2 linked regions of the Homo sapiens genome follow. The protein of the gene in region 1 interacts with the protein of each later gene in a pairwise test. Each region holds a gene or a part of one and is shown on either strand. Other genes may lie near its edges. The genes, in order: ZNF821 and PIM2.

Evidence for each region.
Region 2: the proteins of ZNF821 (region 1) and PIM2 interact in binary tests that used the Homo sapiens proteins (3 or more experiments, as listed by UniProt).

Annotation. Positions count from the first base shown.
Region 1 is NC_000016.10:71,881,001-71,888,690, reverse strand, and holds the start of ZNF821 (zinc finger protein 821), read left to right. Parts: upstream 1-4,508; 5' UTR 4,509-4,783; intron 4,784-5,149; exon of another isoform or gene 5,150-5,417; coding exon of another isoform or gene 5,418-5,480; intron 5,481-7,256; coding exon of another isoform or gene 7,257-7,374; intron 7,375-7,690. UniProt on the Homo sapiens protein: May be involved in transcriptional regulation.
Region 2 is NC_000023.11:48,912,681-48,916,317, reverse strand, and holds the end of PIM2 (serine/threonine-protein kinase pim-2), read left to right. Parts: intron 1-925; coding exon 926-1,298; intron 1,299-1,746; coding exon 1,747-1,923; intron 1,924-2,023; coding exon 2,024-2,187; 3' UTR 2,188-3,136; downstream 3,137-3,637. UniProt on the Homo sapiens protein: Proto-oncogene with serine/threonine kinase activity involved in cell survival and cell proliferation.

The sequences.
Region 1 (7,690 bases):
GTCCTTTAAAATATCAGATTTTTATCAAGACTGTATGATAGTGGCATAAGGATAGGCATATAGGTCAATGGAATAGAACTGAGAGTCCAGAAATAAACCCATGCATTTATAACCAATTGATTCTCAACAAGGATACCAAGACAATTCAAAGGGGGAAAGAACAGTCTTTACAACAAATGGTGCTAAGAAAACTGGATAACTGCATGCAAAAGAATAAAATTGCCCCCCACCCCGGCCTCACACCATATGCAAAAACTAACTCAAAATGGAGTGAAGACCTAAATGTAGGAGCTAAAAAACTCCTAAGAGAAAACATAGGTGTAAATTTTCATGACTAGGCGGTGATAGTTTCGTAGACATGGCATCCAAACCACAAGCAATGAAGGAAAAAATAAATTAGACTTCATATAAATCAAAAACTTTGTGCTTCAAAGGACACTATGTGCCGTGACCAAATAAATAAAAATAAATATTATTTTTATTTGGGATACCAAATAAATAAAAATAAATTTTAGGCCAGGCGCAGTGGTTCATGCCTGTAATCCCAGCACTTTGGGAGGCTGAGGCGGGGAGATTGCTTGAGCCTAGGTGTTCCAGACCAGCCTGAGCAACATGGTGAGACCCCGTCTCTACAAAAAATACAAAAATTATTCAGGTGTGGTGGCGTGTGCCTGTAAGGGCATGCCAGTAGTCCCAGCTACTCGGGAGGCTGAGGTGGGATGATCACCTGAGCTCAGGGAGGTCAATGCTGCAGTGAGCTGTGATCATACCACTGTGCTGCACTCCAGCCTGGGCAACAGAGTGAGACCCTGATTCCAAAAAAAAAAAAAAAAAGACAACTCAATTTAAAAATAGGCAAAGGATTTGAATAGACATTCTCCAAATGGTCAATAATAAGCACATGAAAAAATATTCAACATCCTTAGTCATTAGAGAAATGCAAATTAAAATCACAATGAGATATGACTTTATATCCACTAGGGTGGCCATTAATGTCAAAGACAAACAATAACAAATGTTGACCAGGTTGTGCAGAAATTGGAAACACCATATGTTGCTGATAGGAATATAAAATGGTGCAGCCACTTAGGAAAACAGTTTAGCACTTCCTCAAAAAGTTGAACACAGAGGGCTGCGCGCGATGGCTCACGCCTGTAATCCCAGCACTTTGGGAGGCCGAGGCGGGCGGATCACGAGGTCAGGAGATCAAGACCATCCTGGCTAACACGGTGAAACCTCGTCTCTACTAAAAATACAAAAAAAATTAGCCGGGCGTGGTGGCGGGCACCTGTAGTCCCAGCTGCTTGGGAGGCTGAGGCAGGAGAATGGCGTGAACTCAGGAGGTGGAGCTTGCAATGAGCCGAGATCGCGCCACTGCACTCCAGCCTGGGCGACAGAGCAAGACTCGGTCTCAAAAAAAAAAAAAAAAAAGGTTGAATATAGAGTTACCATTTGACCAAGCAATTCCACTCTTAGATATATGTATGCACCCATGTCCATACATAATGTAAAGACATATGTTTACACAAAAACTGTACACAAATGTTCATAGTAGCATTATGCATAGTAGCCAAAAAGTAGGCCCAAGCCAAATATCGTTCCACTAATGAATGGATAAATAAAATGTGGCATATCCATACAACAGAATATAATTCAGCCATAAAAAGGAATTAAGTACTGATATATGCTACAACATGAATGAACCTTGAAAACCTATTAAGTGACAAAAGCCAGATTAAGTGACAAAAGCCAGACACGAGAGGTCCCATACTGTATAATCAATCACATTTATATGAAATGTCCAGAATAGGCAAATCCACACAGACAGAAAGTAGATTTGTGGGTGCCAGGAGCTGGAGGAAGGGAGAATGGTGAGTTACTGCTACTGGGTATGGGATTTCTTTTTGGGGTGATGAAAATATTCCGGAATTAGATACTAGTGATGTTGTCAACCCTGTGAATGTACCAAAACCCACTGAATTGTACACTTTAAAAGCATGAGTTTCATGGTATGTGAATTATACCTTAATTTAAAAAAATGTAACATGAGGTTCTTAAAATCCTCCTACCTTTATTGTTGGAATATAGAGCCCTAACAAGGTCATTGTAGAAGCCAACAAATATAAAATGGATTAGGAAGATATTTCAAGTGGAAAGTTAAATAGTTGAAGTGGCAAAATGATGACATAACTGTGAGTAGATTGGGAAAGTAGAAAAAAGTGAAGCTAAAAAAATATATATGGTTAATTAAAAGGTCTTCTAGATGTAGAACAAGTTTAGGTGAAAGCAGAGGAAAAATAAATTAATTCTTCTTTTTTAAAGAGACAAGGGTTTCACTATGTGGCCCAAGCTGGCCTCAAACACTTGGGCTCAAGTCATCATACCATCTCAGCCTCCTGAGTAGCTGGGACTATAGGTGCCAGCCACCATGCCTAACTTAAACTAATTACGTATTTAATAATTTTTTCATTATTTGGTTGTAACCTTGAATCACAACACCTCTGAGAAATTTTTAGAGCACAGGGAAGTCATAAGAATAGCATTATTATCATCTCATTTTATTTGGAAGTCAAGGAGATGGAATAAGCTGCCCAACATTACATAATAATAATGCATCCAAGAAATTTCACTGGAGGCAAACTTTACCTGTTTGCTACTTTTCTGTTGAAAATGTCAACTAAGTCAGCTTTAAAGTGACATAATAAAGCCATACTTGTATCCCTCAGTCCAAACTGATCAAGAATTACTGTTAAATATAAAAGCCAGTGTGTATTCTAGGTTGTATTCTTACACAAAATAGTACAAACACTTGCGGGTTGGATGATAATATTCCATTTTCTGTCTACTTGGAAACTAAGTTTTTAAATGAAATTAAAATGTTTCCTTGACTGAAGTTAAACAACAATAATTGCTATCTAAGTATCCTAATCACAATAAATAAATGAGTGAATGATGAATGAGCTATTTATCACAGAATTGTGAAGGACCAAGATCCCTCAATGTAATCATTCTATTACATTGAACACAAGATGCAGACAATGAGATCATCTCATAAAAGATTTAGGGGAAAGACAATTTGCAAGAATGTTCTATGCAAATACCAGGACTTGTCACTTTATCAGCAAATGACAGCATCCTCGTTAGCCCTGCCTTTGTGCAGCCAGTAATCACGAAAAACATTTGCATGATGCTTTTAGCCATTTGTTTTACTTAACTGGCACAACAACCCTCGGAGAGTAAAGGCCAGGAATTATTGCATCATTATCCATTTGACATCTTAGGAAGCAGAGGCTCAGAACAGGGAAGTGACTTGCCCAAAGTCAACAGGCTGGTGGGTGGCAGAGCTGGGGCTCAAAGCCAGATCTTCTAATACCAGATCTCATCTTCTTTCCTCTGCATTCCCTGCTTCTCCAGGTAAGCGATGCCAGGGCAGGCTCAGGCATTCTAGAAGAGAGGAAGAAAAGAAGGCAACAGGAACTAGGAGAGAGAAGGACGTGGACAGGAGGAGGTGTTTGACTAGAAGTGCGTCCAACCAGGCCGGGCACAGTGGCTTACGCCTGTAATCCCAGCACTTTGAGAGGCCGAGGCGGGAGGATCACCTGAGGTCAGGAGTTCGGGACCAGCCTGGCCAACATGGTGAAACCCCGTCTACTAAAAATACAAAAATTAGCTGGGCGTGGTGGTGCACGCCTGTAGTCCCAGCTACTCGGGAGGCTGAAGCACGAGAATCGCTTGAACCTGGGAGGCGCAGGTTGCAGTGAGCGAAGATCGCGCCATTGCATTGCAGCCTGGGTGACAGAGCGAGACTCTGTCTCAAAAAAAAAAAAAAAAAAAAGGTCCAACGGCTCTCCATTGCCCCCAAACATCCCTCAAGTGACAACAGTGCCACAAGTTCCCCTGCCCCTGGGTCTGCAGCCAATGTTATTTTATCAGTTGAGAATCATGTCAGAAAATTAAATACTCAAAAGAAATCTCAAGATTTCCCAGCTCTGAGGTTCTGACAGCTGAACTTGGCCCCTCCCACCAAGGCCCGTGGTCACATTCAAAGCCTCGGGAGCCGAAGCCACCGCGAAGCGTGGGGGAATGAGGCGAAGAGGGTTTGTGACGGTGGTGGGGATCCGGGCTAAGGAGAGGGGGTGCCTGCGGCGGAGCTGTGGTTGGGGGTTGTGGGTTTTGTGGCTGAACTCGATGGTGGGGTAAGAAACCAGGATCGGGGCTGGGTAGGGTGGCGTTTACACGTCCAGGAAGGTCTGGGGGAGCTGAGCGGCTGAGACAGCCAGAGAAAGACCCGGGAATGGGCGAGGCGGGGGGTTCCGGAGCCCTGGAACGCGGGCGAGCCCCTCTCGGGCGCCCGGGATTGGGCGCTCCCCGGAGCCCCTCCTCTCCAGAGCCCCTCTCCTCAGGCCCCGCCCACAACGCCAGGCGCGCGCCGGGCCGCGGGGAAGGGGACCTGGCCGGCGCGGGGGAGGGGGAGAGGGAGGCTCGTGCACGCGCCTCACTAGCTGCGGGTGCGCGAGCCGCGCGCTCCCGCCGCCCGCGTCGCCATCTTTTTCCCCCTCCGTCTGTCTGTCTGCTGTTGGCTTTGTCCGTCTGCAGCGCCGCCCCTCGGCTCCCCGCCACCGGCTCGGCTCGGCCCGGAGCCCCTTCCGCTCGCCGGGGCCCAGTCCCGGAGCGCCCCGGCCCGGCTGGCTTGGGCTGCGGTCCCGGGTCCATTGTCCGGCGGTCCGTCTGTCCGGAGGCGGGGCCCAGGGACCCAGAGCGCAGCGCAGCGCCGAGGCGCCGGGTAAAAAGACCCCCTGCCCTCCCTCCGGGTCCGGGCTGGGGATGCGGGCTCCTCGCCCCCTCGCGGCCGCCGGCTGTTGGTCCTTTTGTCTGCACTGGGGAGAGGGCCGGGGGCCAGCTCCGGCCTAGGGGGGCAGCCCGGGCTCACCCTCCCCGCTTCCAACCCCAATTCCTCCCCGGCCGCTCCTCCTGCTGCCCCTTGGCGCTCTCGGGCGCGGGGCGCGGGGTGCGGGGCCGGGGGGCTTTTGCGCGGGCCGCGGGCACCCCGCCTCCTCGGGCCCCGGCGGGGACGGCCCCGGCGTCTGACAGCCTTGGGTGGAGCTGGGGGAGGGGAGGATGGGCGTGGGCGTGCAGACCGGGGGGTATCAGTCCCCGCGTCTGGGTCTCGCAGAAAAGCTTCTAAATTTAGATTTCGGAGATTGTGTTGTCTAAGGGTTTGTCTGAGCCGCCTCGGAAGACCTCCGGCTCTTGTCAGGCTCTTGTCTGGTAATTCCTGGGAATTTACCTGGGCTCATGCTTGAAGAAGCAGAGGGACCATCTCGGCTGATTAGACACGCCCCAGACCCAACCCCAGGGGTCAGGTGAACAGCCAGGCGGCTAAGTGACCAGCTTTCTTGTCCTCTCCTTTTTGGCAGATACAGATCACTTGGATTCAGTCGAGTTTGCTTTGCTCCGTGGGAACTGCACCAGAGCTGGAGGTGGGAACGCACTCTCTTTTCATCAAGCTGAGATTTCACTCGTTTTTTTTCTTGCCAAAGTCTGTGGTGTGCCCTAGACGCTGCAACCTAATACCTGTGGGAGAGCAGAGACAGTGTTCAGGGGAGACGTTGCACCTTCCCGAGGACTCTTAACCTTGCTCTGAAGACAGACAGAACTGCTTTCCTTTTAAAATGGAATCCCTTTAGACCTGAATCTCACCGTTTACCTGTCTTCCCAGCCCATGTTCAGGCAGCTATCTATTTACATTTTTGGTTTGGTTTGGTTTCAGGTTTTGGCTTGGAAATTGAGGCAGTGTTAAAAGTAAAACAAAATGAGTGACCTTTAGGGCTGTATGTCTCTGGGTTTTATTAGCTTTAACTGCCTATAAAACAAGTCATCTGGCCTCTGAGATCTTGCTTTGTGGTCAAGAGTGTCCTTTCAGCGCCATTTATTTATTTACTTATTGATTTTCAACAGCCCATGACCCCACAGGCCTGTTTTTGTGGGTGTTTTTGTTATTATTTTCGTTTCGTTGTGTGGGAGGGGACTGTAATTGCTTATTTTTCTCTTGATCACTCAGGTGTGAAGTCCCATTGGGTACCATCTGGTCAGTTCCCCATTTGGCCACTAGGAGGATTATAAGATGCAGCGGGCATTGCTGATTTAAATACGCAGACACTCATCTCTGTCTTTTGACTTGGAGCTTTAATATTGAAATGTTGTCTGGTTCAAATTATTTGGCCTTCCTTCAGAAGGGACTTTATTACCTTTATCTTACAGTTTCAGTTTCTGATCTTGAAGGGAGAAAATATAAAAATTAGTCAAGATTCTGTTTTTTCTTCTATAATAGAGTATATATATATTTAGCCTCAATAGATTATCACATTAGAGGAGTATATTTTATTTTTTTAAATTTTTATTTATCTTTTTTTTTTTTTTTTGAGACGGAGTCTCGTTCTGTCGCCCAGGCTGGAGTGCAGTGGTGCGTTCTTGGCTCACTGCAACCTCCGCCTCCCGGGTTCAAGCAATTCCCTGCCTCAACCTCCTGAGTAGCTGAGATTACAGACATGCATCACCACGCCCAGCTAGTTTTTGTATTTTTAGTACAGACGGGGTTTCACCATGTTGGCCAGGCTGTTCTCAAACTCCCGACCTCAGGTGATCCACCCGCCTCAGCCTCCCAAAGTGCTGGGATTACAGGCGAGAGCCACCGCCCATGGCAGTTTTTTATCTTTTTTTGAGATGGAGTCTCACTCTGTTGCCCAAGCTGCAGTGTAGTGCCTCCATCCCAGCTCACTGCAACCTCCCCTCCCCAGGTTCAAGCGATTCTCATGCCTCAGCTTCCCGAGTAGCTGGAATTTACAGGTGTGCACCACCATGCCCAGCTAATTTTTGTATTTTTATTAGAGGTTTCCCCATATTGGCCAGGCTGGTCTCAAACTCCTGGCCTCAAGTGATCTGCCTGCCTTGGCCTCCCAAAGTGTTGGGATTACAGGCGTGAGCCACGGTGCCTGGCCATATTTTTAAAAATATTAATAGAGCCTGCATTTCATTACCTTTCCACTTGGTGATTCCACACACATATAGGAAATCCAAAGTGTGATATTCATTCACTGCTTCCGTGAATAAAACAACTACTTGATTAGAAAAAAATGACATACACAAAACTTAGAGAACATACACTATCAGCACTCAGTATATTGCCCTCTAAATAGTTTAAATTGATTTTTATTGTATACATTTAGAGTTTTGTTTTGTTTTGTTTTTAATTAAAGGTCTGAAAAAGAACTGTGTTTGATATGCAGATATGCTAGAAGACTGCCTGAAAGCTGCTTCCTTTGCCACTTCCTGTGGAGGCCTGTCTTTGCCATTTGCGGTTTCTTTATTCTTTTGGTAAGGGGAGGCAGGATCTGATTATAGGTTTGAGGTCCTTCTAGCTACATAGAGGAGTTAGTTGGCATAACAGGAGGTGAGTCTTCATTAACTGGAGTACAAAATATAGCTAGCAGTAGTCTCCCATAACTCCTCTTAAGGCAATAAACTATGATTTTATGTTTGCTTATTCAATGTGAGTATAACTCAAGAAGGCAGGAACTGAAAGAAAACTTAAGAGTGTGACCAGATCCATATTCCTGTCTTTGGTAGGAAAGACAATCCCTTTTTATTCTATGTCTTTATTCACTCTTTCTAAGAAAATGACACAGCTATC
Region 2 (3,637 bases), on another chromosome or scaffold:
AACAAATTAGGTATATTGACCACCTACTATATGACAGACATAATTCTAGACACTCAGCAAAGTATTACATAAGTATTGAGAGCTCATTTTGTGCTAGGTCCTTTTTTACTAATTGTTTTCACCTGTTTAACAAATATTTATTCAGCCCTACTCTGTTAGCAGCCACTGTTCTAGTGCTTCATATACGTCCGTGAACAAAACAAACCATTACACAATAAGTGTTTATTGAGTGCTAACTGCTTGTCAGAGCCCATGCTATTAAGTGCTGTCATCTGTTTAACATTTATTGATCACCTGTGTAAGGTACTATTCTAATCTGGGATATGTCAGGGAACAAAACAAAACACATAATGGTGGTGCTGCTTCTGCTGAAAGCCTTCAGTTGATAACCAGATTTTTCTTTGTATTTTTGCTTGTTTGTTTTGAGACAGCTGGAGTGCAGTGGTGTGATCTTCACTGCAACCTCTGCCTTCTTGGCTCAAGCGACCCTCCCACCTGAGCCTCCCAAGTAGCTGGGACTACAGGTGCATGCCACCAAGCCTGGCTAATTTTTGTGTTTGTGCCATTTTGCCCAGGCTGATCTTGAACTCTTGGGCTCAAGCAATCCACCCACATCAGCCTCCCAAAGTGCTGGGATTGCAGGGATGAGCCACTGTGCCTGGCCGAACTTCTTTCGTTTATTCAAATGTTTATTGATCTACGACATGCGAGATTTGTGCAGGCTCTTTGCTGGTTTCACCCTCTCAATCGCTGTGTGAGTTTGTGTCTTTAGGGAAAGTGAGGCCCAGGAAGGGAAGTGAGTTGCTTAGCGACACACTGTCAGGAAAAGGGGCCCTGAGTTGAGCTTAGGTAAAAAGCCTCAGAGCTGTTGCCCTGACATCTGTCTTTTTTCTCTCCCTGCTTCCCACCCCACCTGTGCCCCCAGTCAGACTCAGTCACATGCCCACTCGAAGTCGCACTGCTATGGAAAGTGGGTGCAGGTGGTGGGCACCCTGGCGTGATCCGCCTGCTTGACTGGTTTGAGACACAGGAGGGCTTCATGCTGGTCCTCGAGCGGCCTTTGCCCGCCCAGGATCTCTTTGACTATATCACAGAGAAGGGCCCACTGGGTGAAGGCCCAAGCCGCTGCTTCTTTGGCCAAGTAGTGGCAGCCATCCAGCACTGCCATTCCCGTGGAGTTGTCCATCGTGACATCAAGGATGAGAACATCCTGATAGACCTACGCCGTGGCTGTGCCAAACTCATTGATTTTGGTTCTGGTGCCCTGCTTCATGATGAACCCTACACTGACTTTGATGGTAAGGCTTCTCTAAATCTCCCTGGAGGGATTGTTTTTACTTGATGGCCTTGTGACCTTTGGCCTCCAGTGGTGGGGTGTCCTGTAATCCTTGACCCATACTGCATTATATAAGATGATCGATTGCTAATACTGGGGATTCTCAGCCTTGCCCTCTGATAAAGTCCATCTTTTAATGGTGTGCTAACCTTATTCTGGGCTCCTATTCTGGTGAGGGGATCCTGTTACCATCCTGAGTATTCTTTCTCTGGTAAGGGGATCCTGTTACTTTTCAGTGCTTTTATTCTGTTGAGGGGACTCTGTTATTTTAGCTGCTTTTTATCTAGTGAGGGGACTCTGCTTTTATCTTGAGTGCTCTTAATTGTGGTGAGGCCATCCTTCCTGGAGAGTTTGGGGTTGGAGAAGGGCATCATGAGATTGAGTTGGTCTAACCCCTGGCTTGTGTGCAGGGACAAGGGTGTACAGCCCCCCAGAGTGGATCTCTCGACACCAGTACCATGCACTCCCGGCCACTGTCTGGTCACTGGGCATCCTCCTCTATGACATGGTGTGTGGGGACATTCCCTTTGAGAGGGACCAGGAGATTCTGGAAGCTGAGCTCCACTTCCCAGCCCATGTCTCCCCAGGTGAGGCCTCACTGACCCCAGCCCAGAAGACTCCATCCTTCTCAGGGACCAGTACCCCCTACTGACTGCTAATCTTCCCTCTCTGCTTCTTGGCCTACAGACTGCTGTGCCCTAATCCGCCGGTGCCTGGCCCCCAAACCTTCTTCCCGACCCTCACTGGAAGAGATCCTGCTGGACCCCTGGATGCAAACACCAGCCGAGGATGTACCCCTCAACCCCTCCAAAGGAGGCCCTGCCCCTTTGGCCTGGTCCTTGCTACCCTAAGCCTGGCCTGGCCTGGCCTGGCCCCCAATGGTCAGAAGAGCCATCCCATGGCCATGTCACAGGGATAGATGGACATTTGTTGACTTGGTTTTACAGGTCATTACCAGTCATTAAAGTCCAGTATTACTAAGGTAAGGGATTGAGGATCAGGGGTTAGAAGACATAAACCAAGTCTGCCCAGTTCCCTTCCCAATCCTACAAAGGAGCCTTCCTCCCAGAACCTGTGGTCCCTGATTCTGGAGGGGGAACTTCTTGCTTCTCATTTTGCTAAGGAAGTTTATTTTGGTGAAGTTGTTCCCATTCTGAGCCCCGGGACTCTTATTCTGATGATGTGTCACCCCACATTGGCACCTCCTACTACCACCACACAAACTTAGTTCATATGCTCTTACTTGGGCAAGGGTGCTTTCCTTCCAATACCCCAGTAGCTTTTATTTTAGTAAAGGGACCCTTTCCCCTAGCCTAGGGTCCCATATTGGGTCAAGCTGCTTACCTGCCTCAGCCCAGGATTCTTTATTCTGGGGGAGGTAATGCCCTGTTGTTACCCCAAGGCTTCTTTTTTTTTTTTTTTTTTTTGGGTGAGGGGACCCTACTCTGTTATCCCAAGTGCTCTTATTCTGGTGAGAAGAACCTTACTTCCATAATTTGGGAAGGAATGGAAGATGGACACCACCGGACACCACCAGACACTAGGATGGGATGGATGGTTTTTTGGGGGATGGGCTAGGGGAAATAAGGCTTGCTGTTTGTTCTCCTGGGGCGCTCCCTCCAACTTTTGCAGATTCTTGCAACCTCCTCCTGAGCCGGGATTGTCCAATTACTAAAATGTAAATAATCACGTATTGTGGGGAGGGGAGTTCCAAGTGTGCCCTCCTCTCTTCTCCTGCCTGGATTATTTAAAAAGCCATGTGTGGAAACCCACTATTTAATAAAAGTAATAGAATCAGAAGCGGCTGGCCATTTGTAGGTGTGAGGCTTTTATGGAGCATCTACTGTGCACTGAGACAGACTGTCCCTCTGCTTTGTCCTCAGGAAGCCACAGTCTTATGTTGCCATCCTAAAGAGCTTTAAGGATTCTTGAAGCTGCACCACACACACACAAAAAAATCTTGATTCCCCTGCCCCTGATCTTATGCAGTGCCCAGTATGTGCAGAAGGGTTCTCTGTTGGAGATACTGTGCATATTGAAGGTGTTTAGGGCACATCCCCAATCAAGATGGCTATCTCAGAAGCAGAAAAACTACCTTCCCTGGCACCCCAGGGGAATGAAGAAGCCCTTTCCCCTGTTGCAGAAGAAAAGCCCTGTCAGGGTACTGGCCAGGGCGGGGCTGGGGTTGGGCGCTGACTGGAATCTGTCCAGGGTGTAGTCACCTGTTTTGCTCTTTATCTTTAGCCTCTTCCCCCATCTTTACCCTTACATACCCATCCCTCTAATTTCTCCTTCAACACT